Regions from separate parts of the Homo sapiens genome. Here all the other regions are linked to region 2. The links come from fine-mapping of genetic effects on gene expression. A gene starts in region 2. Each other region holds a variant in brackets. All regions are shown on one strand. Distances are from middle to middle.

Evidence for each region. PIP is the estimated chance that this variant, and not a neighbour inherited with it, causes the effect.
Region 1: its variant is fine-mapped to the expression of FAM20B in whole blood (INTERVAL, PIP above 0.99).
Region 3: its variant is fine-mapped to the expression of FAM20B in vagina (GTEx, PIP 0.94).

Annotation. Positions count from the first base shown.
Region 1 is chr1:179,074,879-179,077,638 of GRCh38, reverse strand. It overlaps FAM20B (FAM20B glycosaminoglycan xylosylkinase), which reads right to left. Exons shown (of 8, transcript NM_014864.4): 8 at 1,072-2,760. Among named protein-coding and RNA genes, the nearest start is that of TOR3A, 5.8 kb to the left of the region's middle. The variant G/T (reference allele first, on the strand shown) is at 1,274.
Region 2 is chr1:179,024,565-179,027,324 of GRCh38, reverse strand. It overlaps FAM20B (FAM20B glycosaminoglycan xylosylkinase), which reads right to left and starts at 1,431. Exons shown (of 8, transcript NM_014864.4): 1 at 1,227-1,431. RefSeq lists silencers at 645-1,384, 1,425-1,614.
Region 3 is chr1:179,070,505-179,073,264 of GRCh38, reverse strand. FAM20B (FAM20B glycosaminoglycan xylosylkinase) reads right to left here. Exons shown (of 8, transcript NM_014864.4): 8 at 1-1,352. The coding sequence ends at 1,121. Among named protein-coding and RNA genes, the nearest start is that of TOR3A, 10 kb to the left of the region's middle. The variant A/G (reference allele first, on the strand shown) is at 1,470.

The DNA of each region.
Region 1 (2,760 bases), 50 kb before region 2:
TCTGATATGCTTGAGAAGCAAATGAATCCTGAACTCTAGCCTGGAAAAGAATTTGTATGTGGTGAGTCAGTGAGATACACAGACCAGGCTCTACTAGCCTCCCACATGTATTCATGTACAAATGACAAAAACTAGCACAAATATGCTGCAAATAAAATAGTTTTGTTTTGTTTTTTGAGACAGAGTTTCGCTCGTTGCCCAGGCTGGAGTGCAATGGCACGATCTCGGCTCATTGCAACCTCCGCCTGCTGGGTTCAAGCAATTTTCCTGCCTCAGCCTCCGAGTAGCCGGGATTACAGGCGCCTGCCACCACACCCAGCTATTTTTTTTTTTTCTTTTTTTGAGACTGAGTTTCACTCTTGTTGCCCAGGCTGGAGTGCAATGGCACAATCCCAGCTCTCCGCCTCCCGGGTTCAAGCGATTCTCCTGCCTCAGCCTCCCCAGAGTAGCTGGGATTACAGGCATGCACCAAGCTGGCTAATTTTGTATTTTTAGTAGAGAAGGGGTTTCACCATGTTGGCCAGGCTGGTCTCAAACTCCCGACCTCAGGTGACCCACGGGCCTTGGCCTCCCAAAGTGCCGGGATTACAGACATGAGCCATGGTGCCTGGCCCAATAAAAATCTTAAGAGCTTTGCTCAGTTACCTGGTTGAGGTTTATGATGCTGGATTCTATTTCAAAAGTTAAAAATCTAGGTGTCCTAAGAAGTACTACTAGGGCAACTGGCCTTCTCTTCCTGCCTTTTTTGTAGTGTGCTGACAAGTTCTTCAGGATTCATAATTCTTTACCTCTAAGGAAGCTGCAAAAATGGAGTTAACTATTAAATATACAAAAAGCACCTAACAATGATCCCATAGAAAATTTTGGTATAGTTACAATCTAGTATGAACCGTTTGAAGACTGGTGAGGAAATTTAAAGGTCTAATCCACCAGGTACTGTGAAACTATCCCTGTGGAAGTTTAAGTGGTCACAAAAGATGTAATCTTCTTCTGTCCCCTAACAGGAAGGGAACTGAAATAGGAACCACTGGAAATATCCTGAAGGGGGAAAGAAGAGGAAAAGATCAGATATCAATATTTATTAAAATCTTTATTCATTTTCTTTTTTCAGAATTGAAACCCATAGAACACATTAGAAATTTAGATCCATATCTGTCTTGTTTGGTATCTTACCAAGTACAATCTCTGTCTGTGCAACAGCTCTGAGAGGAAATCCTTGGCAGATCAAAAGAGAGGGTAGTGGCTCCCACACTTTCCATTTAAGCAAATAAAT[G/T]AGCTTCTGAGTAGTTGTTCCCAGTTTCACCCAACATTTTGTGTTTATGAGAAACACCTTAGTTCCTAAAAACCTGTGGTAGTCCAGTACCTAGCCCCTACCTTGTCACCACCCAGACTTGAGGAATTGAAGGGAAAAAAACTGGCCTTCCCCTGTAGGATGAGTTTCCCAAGGCCAGATGTGCCTGGCTCACTAGTATGTCTGGCCTGTGCTGGCACACTAGAGTTGCTCAGTAGTTATTCGCTGATGAATGGTCTTTATGTTAATTAGGGTCCACTCTCAGAGACTGAGAACCTTTCACTAAGGTTCTTTCTGAATCCTTCAGAAAGTCAGTGTTCCCCTTTGTCAAAATAAATATGTTTTTCTTGCTAGAATACATATACGACTATATACATTACATATACTTTTACTCATGTTTCCTGAAGCTCAAACTCACAGGATGAGGCATATAAGATAGCTTACTGATGATGCTGTTTTACCATCATTGAGGTGTGGTCATTTACTGGTCAAAGAATACACGGGTGATCGAGAAGAAAGGCTGAAGAAATATGGCGGATGGGAAGGGAAGGGAAGGCAAAAGCATTTTTTTTTTTTAGAAAAAAAAGATCGATTTCTTTGGAAGATAATGCTGGCTTCAGATGACATTGAAAAATTGCCACGTATAGGACTCATCTTTCCCAAAATAATATGCAATTAATGTACCTGAATTCTTCCATTTCCTTCTTAAATTTCATTTGACATATTAACCCTGAGTGCAAACAGGGGGCAATGCCTTATTAATACATTCTTGAATAATACTCTGAGCAAATCAGATCCTATGAATTTGTTTTACACAGAAAATTATTTACATTTCCCCCAAACCCACAATGCAGCCTTACACTAAAGAACAGTTTTATAACAAAACCTTTATACTCAAATTTATCCATTCGAACTTTAGAATAAACATGTTTTAACAAGTTGGAGGAGGGCAGGAAATGGCCATGAGTTCTGATTTTCCTAGTTTTGTAGTATTAAAATGTCTCCACGTCTACCTTTGGATGTTTGGTAGGCATACCTAACTTACAGCTGATCCAAACCCTGCAACGACTTGATTGTAACAGCCTTAGATTCTAATAAATAAAGTAGGACAGTGTTACAAAACTTAAAAAAAAATTCACCTCCTTTTTTTTTTTTTAAGACAGAGTCTCGCTCTGTCTCCCAGGCTGGAGTGCAGCAGCACAATCTCAGCTCACTGCAACCTTCGCCTCCTGGATTCAAGTGATTCTCCTGCCTCAGCCTCCCGAGTAGCTGGGACTACAGGCGCATGCCACCGTGCCCTGTTAATTTTTGCATTTTTAGTAGAGACGGTCTCACCATGCTAGCCAGCCAGGCTGGTCTCGAACTCCTGGCCTCAGGTGATCTGCCTGCCTCAGCCTCCCAAATGCTGGGATGACAGGCATGAGCCACGGCACCCGGCCCCCACCTCTTCTTTCAAACAGTGTTTGAAA
Region 2 (2,760 bases):
TTGTAATACATAAGAACACTGAGATCTCTAACCAGATTTTTAGAAATCAACGCCAGTGAAATTTTTGCAAGAATTTACAACGCAAAAAACATAGGCGTGGCTAATAAATGGCAATAGTAATTTGTACCAGATTATAGATTTATAAAGTCCTACAGTTTAAAGGCTAAAGGCTAAAAAAAACCCCACATTCCTACTTCCCTTCCAAGTGAGAAATCAAACCTCCAGAGGGAAGCTGGCTGGGTGGGGAAGATGCTGATATCTGGCACTAGACCCAAGTCGCAATAGCAAGCAACTCTCATTTTCCCAAATTAGAAACTCCTTATCCATCCCAATGATGGTATGGTCTTTAAAAGGACTAATAATTCCATTAAGACTAACCAAGCCCTGTTACCCCTACTTTCCCTCCAATCCATCCTTCTACCCCTTCTCTTCTTATCCGGAGACTGGCAGGTTAACAGAAGTCAGATTAGAATGAATCTCTTATCAGAACCCACAATCAAGGACGCAGCTCGACAACTATTCACATTCATCATTAAGGGAAACGTATCGGTCCGCTCTTAATCGCGGGGCCGTCACACCCGGAAATGAAATCTCAAGCGCAGCCCACTGAGGGCTAACACAGCATTCGTTAAGTTGTGCCCTTCTGCGAGCGCCCGGCGCAGGACCCCAGGAGACCGCGGGCCCCGGGCACGGTTGCCCCGCCTTCCGCCTCCGGCCTGCAGGTCACTCGCGCTTCCCGGCCACGAGGCGGGCCCAGCAAAGACCCCGCGAGGGCGCGCTCCCTGGGCTGCCTCAACGGGCGCTCCGGGGAACACAAGAGAGGCACCGGGGCCAATCGCCTCTGGGGACCGCGCAAGGGGACGAGAGACGGTCACTAGAAGGACCTCTGGCAGCCTGAGGCGGCCCCAGGTGGGCCCGCGCCTCAGGTGGGCCAGGGACGTGGCGGCCGAGGCCGCGTCCCTTCAGCCGCGACCGCACACAGGGACACGCGGCCCGAGCGGGTCTCCCAGGAAGCCTCGGGCCCTCGCCCGGGACCCGCCCGCAGCCACTCGGGGACGGCTCAGGGCACCCGGTGCCCGGCCCCTCAGGGAGGCGCCCCGCCCCCAGGCGGCCCCAGCCCGGCGCGCGCTACGTACCGTGCCCCGCCCGCGTGCCGGTCCGCATTTTCCCGCCCGCCGCGCCGGGGGCGGGGGTCGCGCGCCCTCCCCCGCCCCCGCGCCACTCACCTGTCGGGCCCTAGGCTCGCTCCATGGCCGCCCGCGCGGTGCGGTGCGGCGCGGCCCCGGCCGCCCCCGCCGCCTCCGGGGAGGGGCAGCCCCACGCCGCGCTCACCGCCCCCAGCCGCCGCCGCCGCCACAGCGGCTCCGGCCCACCCCCGGCCCGGCCATTCCCAGGCCACCTCTCGCCGCGCAGAGCGGCAGTCCCACACCCACCCCCCCGCCTCCGAGGCCCCCGGCTGTTGGTACCGTCCTAGCGTAGCGCCTGCCCGACGGCCAATCCCAGCGCTCGCTCGGCGCGGCCCCGCCCCCGCCCAGTAGGCGGCCCCTACCGGACCCGCTCCGGACTGCCCCCCTTAACCTCTTCCATACCGGGCCCGTCCGCTTAACTCCCTCGGCGCCGGCGCCGGTCTCCTGCCGGCCGCGCCGCCCTGCCCGCTTACATAAACTGGCCTCTCACTTCTCACTTCCTTCGCTCTTTTTTCTTTTTCTGTATTTGTCCTCCATCCCCCACCCCGTCTTCTCTTTTTCTTTCCTGCTTTTCTTAGGTAGGTAGGCAGCCAAGCAGCAGGACTGGAGAGTTGCGGTCCCCTAGGTCGAGTTCTGTTTGTGAGAAGCATTTTCCCTCCTCCTGTTGCCTTTTTAATTTGCCTTGACTTCTGCTCGGAACTTCTGCCTATCTAAATGTATCCCCCGCTTCTTTTGCCCAGAAAAAGGCTAGCCTTTCCACACTGAGTGCAAATGGCTCTTCATTCGGACCAGAGCGGAGCGTCCTGCTACATACTTTCAGGAGCATCTCACAAAATTATGATTCATTTACTGTAATATTAGTTGTTTTACATCTGTTTTTTGCTAAGGACCGTAAGCCCCATGAGGGCAGGTCAGTCGCTCCTGGGTCGCCAATGCCCGACCGTAGTGCACCCAGTGGGCGCGGATAAATCGTGTGAATGAAAGATTCTGCCTTCCCTTTGTTTGCTTTCAGCTGACTTATACAGAGCCGCCACTGTGTCCATCCATTTATTCACCATATACTAAAGCGCAAACTTAGTGTGCCTGACCCTGAAATATAATGCAGGTTACTCCATGGAATAAGATGCGTGATGGGGAAAGACTGAGCTGACACTTTTTCTTCAGGCCACATAGTTCATTTAATCAGTAAGGCGTACTGAACAGAATTCTTTCTTACTGGCTGTATGATACTGGATGTGCCAGTTAACTTTGCTGAGCATCAGTTTCCTTAACTGGAAAATGGGAGTTAATAACTTCACAGGGTTGTTGTAAGGATTAAGTTAGGAAATGTATGGGGAAAGTACTCTAAGATTATTGTGTATGATTAGGTGTTATTCGTCTGTATATTTGCTGAGCATTTACTATCAGGAGATCCTAGAGAAATAATTGGGCTTGACACTTGCTCCGGACAATGTAGTTAGGGAGGCAGCATTAATCACTGCAGGAGACGTACAGTCAAATGCAGAAGGCATTGTATTAGCTTTTTGCTGCGTGTAGTTGAAAAGGTTTGGAGGTTTGGAGGTCGTTTTCTGGC
Region 3 (2,760 bases), 46 kb before region 2:
ATCACAAGATAAGTCCAGCCACTTATCTGAGAGAGTAAGGTATACACTCTCACCTGTAGGAGTGTCCCTTTCTTATGAGAAAGGGACAAAAAGGTTGCCGATCTCTTGGGAACAGCAGCTTCAGTGACAAAAATGCCTTAAAGGCAGAGGTGGAAATTCATTTCAGAAGAGAAACGAGGATGACAGAGACCACAGGCAACCTGTTATTCAAGGTATTATTTCAGTTTGCTTTGTTAATTTGGGAAGGACTGCTTTTGGCAAAAGGGGAAAAAATTAGTCTCCACAGAGAATCATGCTTAGATTGTAATAGTATTTTCTCTAGAGACAACTTTTTGGTTAATTGGGACACAACTATGAGAATGCAGAATTTACTTAGGTGCAAAGTCATGTTTGCTTTTTATACACCTTAAGATCCTAAATACAAGGGAACCTGTTTTTCAGTAGTTCAGTCATCTCCCTGATTCTGGTTCTACCATTGGGTCTCTCTCTCTTCTTCCCTCCTCTAAGATCATCAAAACAATACTACCCAATGGCTTAAAAGCCCAAACATTTTTCTGTTTTTGTCCTTCCCTCCAATTCTATCTTAAACATGTATCTCCTCTAACAGAGTGTGCTATTTTGGCTTGATGGAATGCAAGGTTTTATTTGCTGCCACTCTGTAGGACAGTAAGCATTCCAATGTAACTAGTTCTGGTAAAAAAAAAAAAGACAAAGAGATTGCAAAGTGTTTCCACAAAATCCACGGGCGTAGAGAAAGGACTGCAAGGTTCAACTCAAAACACATGCTCCAGAGCCAATCCCAGTATTCATCTATCCAAATGTCACACCTGTTTGTCCTTTGGCATGGGAATTAAGACTGACCAACTATGATGCCCAACCCTAGAATGAGCAATTGCCGAGGAGGTGAGAAGGCGATTCAGCAGGAATGTCTCCATGCTCTGAAACTTGTGGTCTTTGCTTTAGTTTCTACTACAGAAAATACCAAAGACATCCAAGGCCACTCTGTCCCGTCACCAGAACTTGCTGCTGGCCACTTCCAATCCATCTCATACCATTTGGAATTGATTGTGCTGTTTCTCTATCTTTGTAAAAAGAAGTTTCACTTATTTTGTGTCGAGAATTACAAGTGTGAGAGAGGCATCCTGTCTTCCACCAGTACTGTGTCCATCCCAAACTGGTCGGTGCACTGCTTCACGGTGGCCAGGACACTCAGGAGCCGCTGGTCCACGGCGTCCAGATGAGGATCAGAGAGCACTGGGGAGATGGGGTCATGGGCCATGGCAGATTTTAAGGCAGACTTTAGCACACCATTCTTTAGGTAGTTCAGTCTGTTCCAGGTGGACACCCGAATGCTGGGAGAAAAAGTTATAGAACAAGGTACATAAAACTTCTCATTATCAAACGGAGTTGAAAGCCTGCTAGGCAGACAAAAGTGAAAAAATAATTAGGTAAAATCCTTTAACTAAATA[A/G]TTTTTGCTTTAGAATTACCCCTACATAATGAGTAAGCCACATTACTATGTTTTGATATTGTTTCTGTGTAACTAATCAGAGATATATACAGAGATTTACACACATGTTCACTGCAGTGCTGTTTATAACAGGAAAAATGTTGAACAATCTGAATGTCTAACGACTGGGAAATAGTTAAATTATGGTTCATCCATTGAAAGGAATACCATGCAGCTGTTAAAAACAATTTTGAAAATTTAGTGGAATGGGAAAATGCCTATGATATGATGCTGGGTGGGGGGAAGAGGTTGGAGGAAAAACCTGTTTCACTTCAAATCTGTAGGAAAACAAAATACACATACATGGATTGGAATGAAGTACACTACAGTGTTAACAAGAGGATCCTTAGACGTTAATCCTTAGACGTTAATGGGTACTATAAACTTCCTTCTTCCTCATGTGTTTCTGAAGTCTAAAATAATTTCTACTGGGAAAAAATTATTATTATTATTTTTTTTTTGAGACAGAGTCTTGCTCTGTCGCCCAGGCTGGAGTGCAGTGGTGTGATCTCGGCTCACTGCAAGCTCTGCCTCCCGGGTTCACGCCATTCTCCTGCCTCAGCCTCCTGAGTAGCTGGGACTACAGGCACCCGCCACCACGCCCGGCTAATTTTTTTGTATTTTTTAGTAGAGACGGGTTTTCACCGTGTTAGCCAGGATGGTCTTGATCTCCTGACCTCGTGATCCGCCCGCCTCGGCCTCCCAAAGTGCTGGGATTACAGGCGTGAGCCACTGCGCCTGGCGGAAAAAATTATTTTAAGGATACCTATCTGCCTTATTTCACCAACTGCTACCATTTGAATGTCTGTCCCCTACAAAATACATGTTGAAATTGCCATTGTAACAGTATCAAGGTAGAGTCTTTTAAGAGGTCGTTAGGCCATGAGTGCTCTGCCCTCATGGGTGGAACTAATGCTGTTATTAAAAGGCAAGTTCAAGGCCAGGAGCGGTGGCTCACATCTGTAATCCCAACACTTTGGGAGGCCGAGGTGGGCCCTCAGGTTGGGAGTTCAAGACCAGGCTGGCCAACATGGTAAAACCCCGTCTCTACTAAAAATACAAAAATTAGCTGGGCGTGGTGGCAGGTGCCTGTAATCCCAGCTACTTGGGAGGCTGAGGCACAAGAATCACTTGAACCCGGGAGGTGGAGGTTGCAGTGAGCCAAGATTGTGCCACTGCACTCCAGCCTGGGCAAAAGAGCAAGACTCCATCTCAAAAAAAAAAAAAAAAAAAAAAAAAAAGGCGAGTTCAG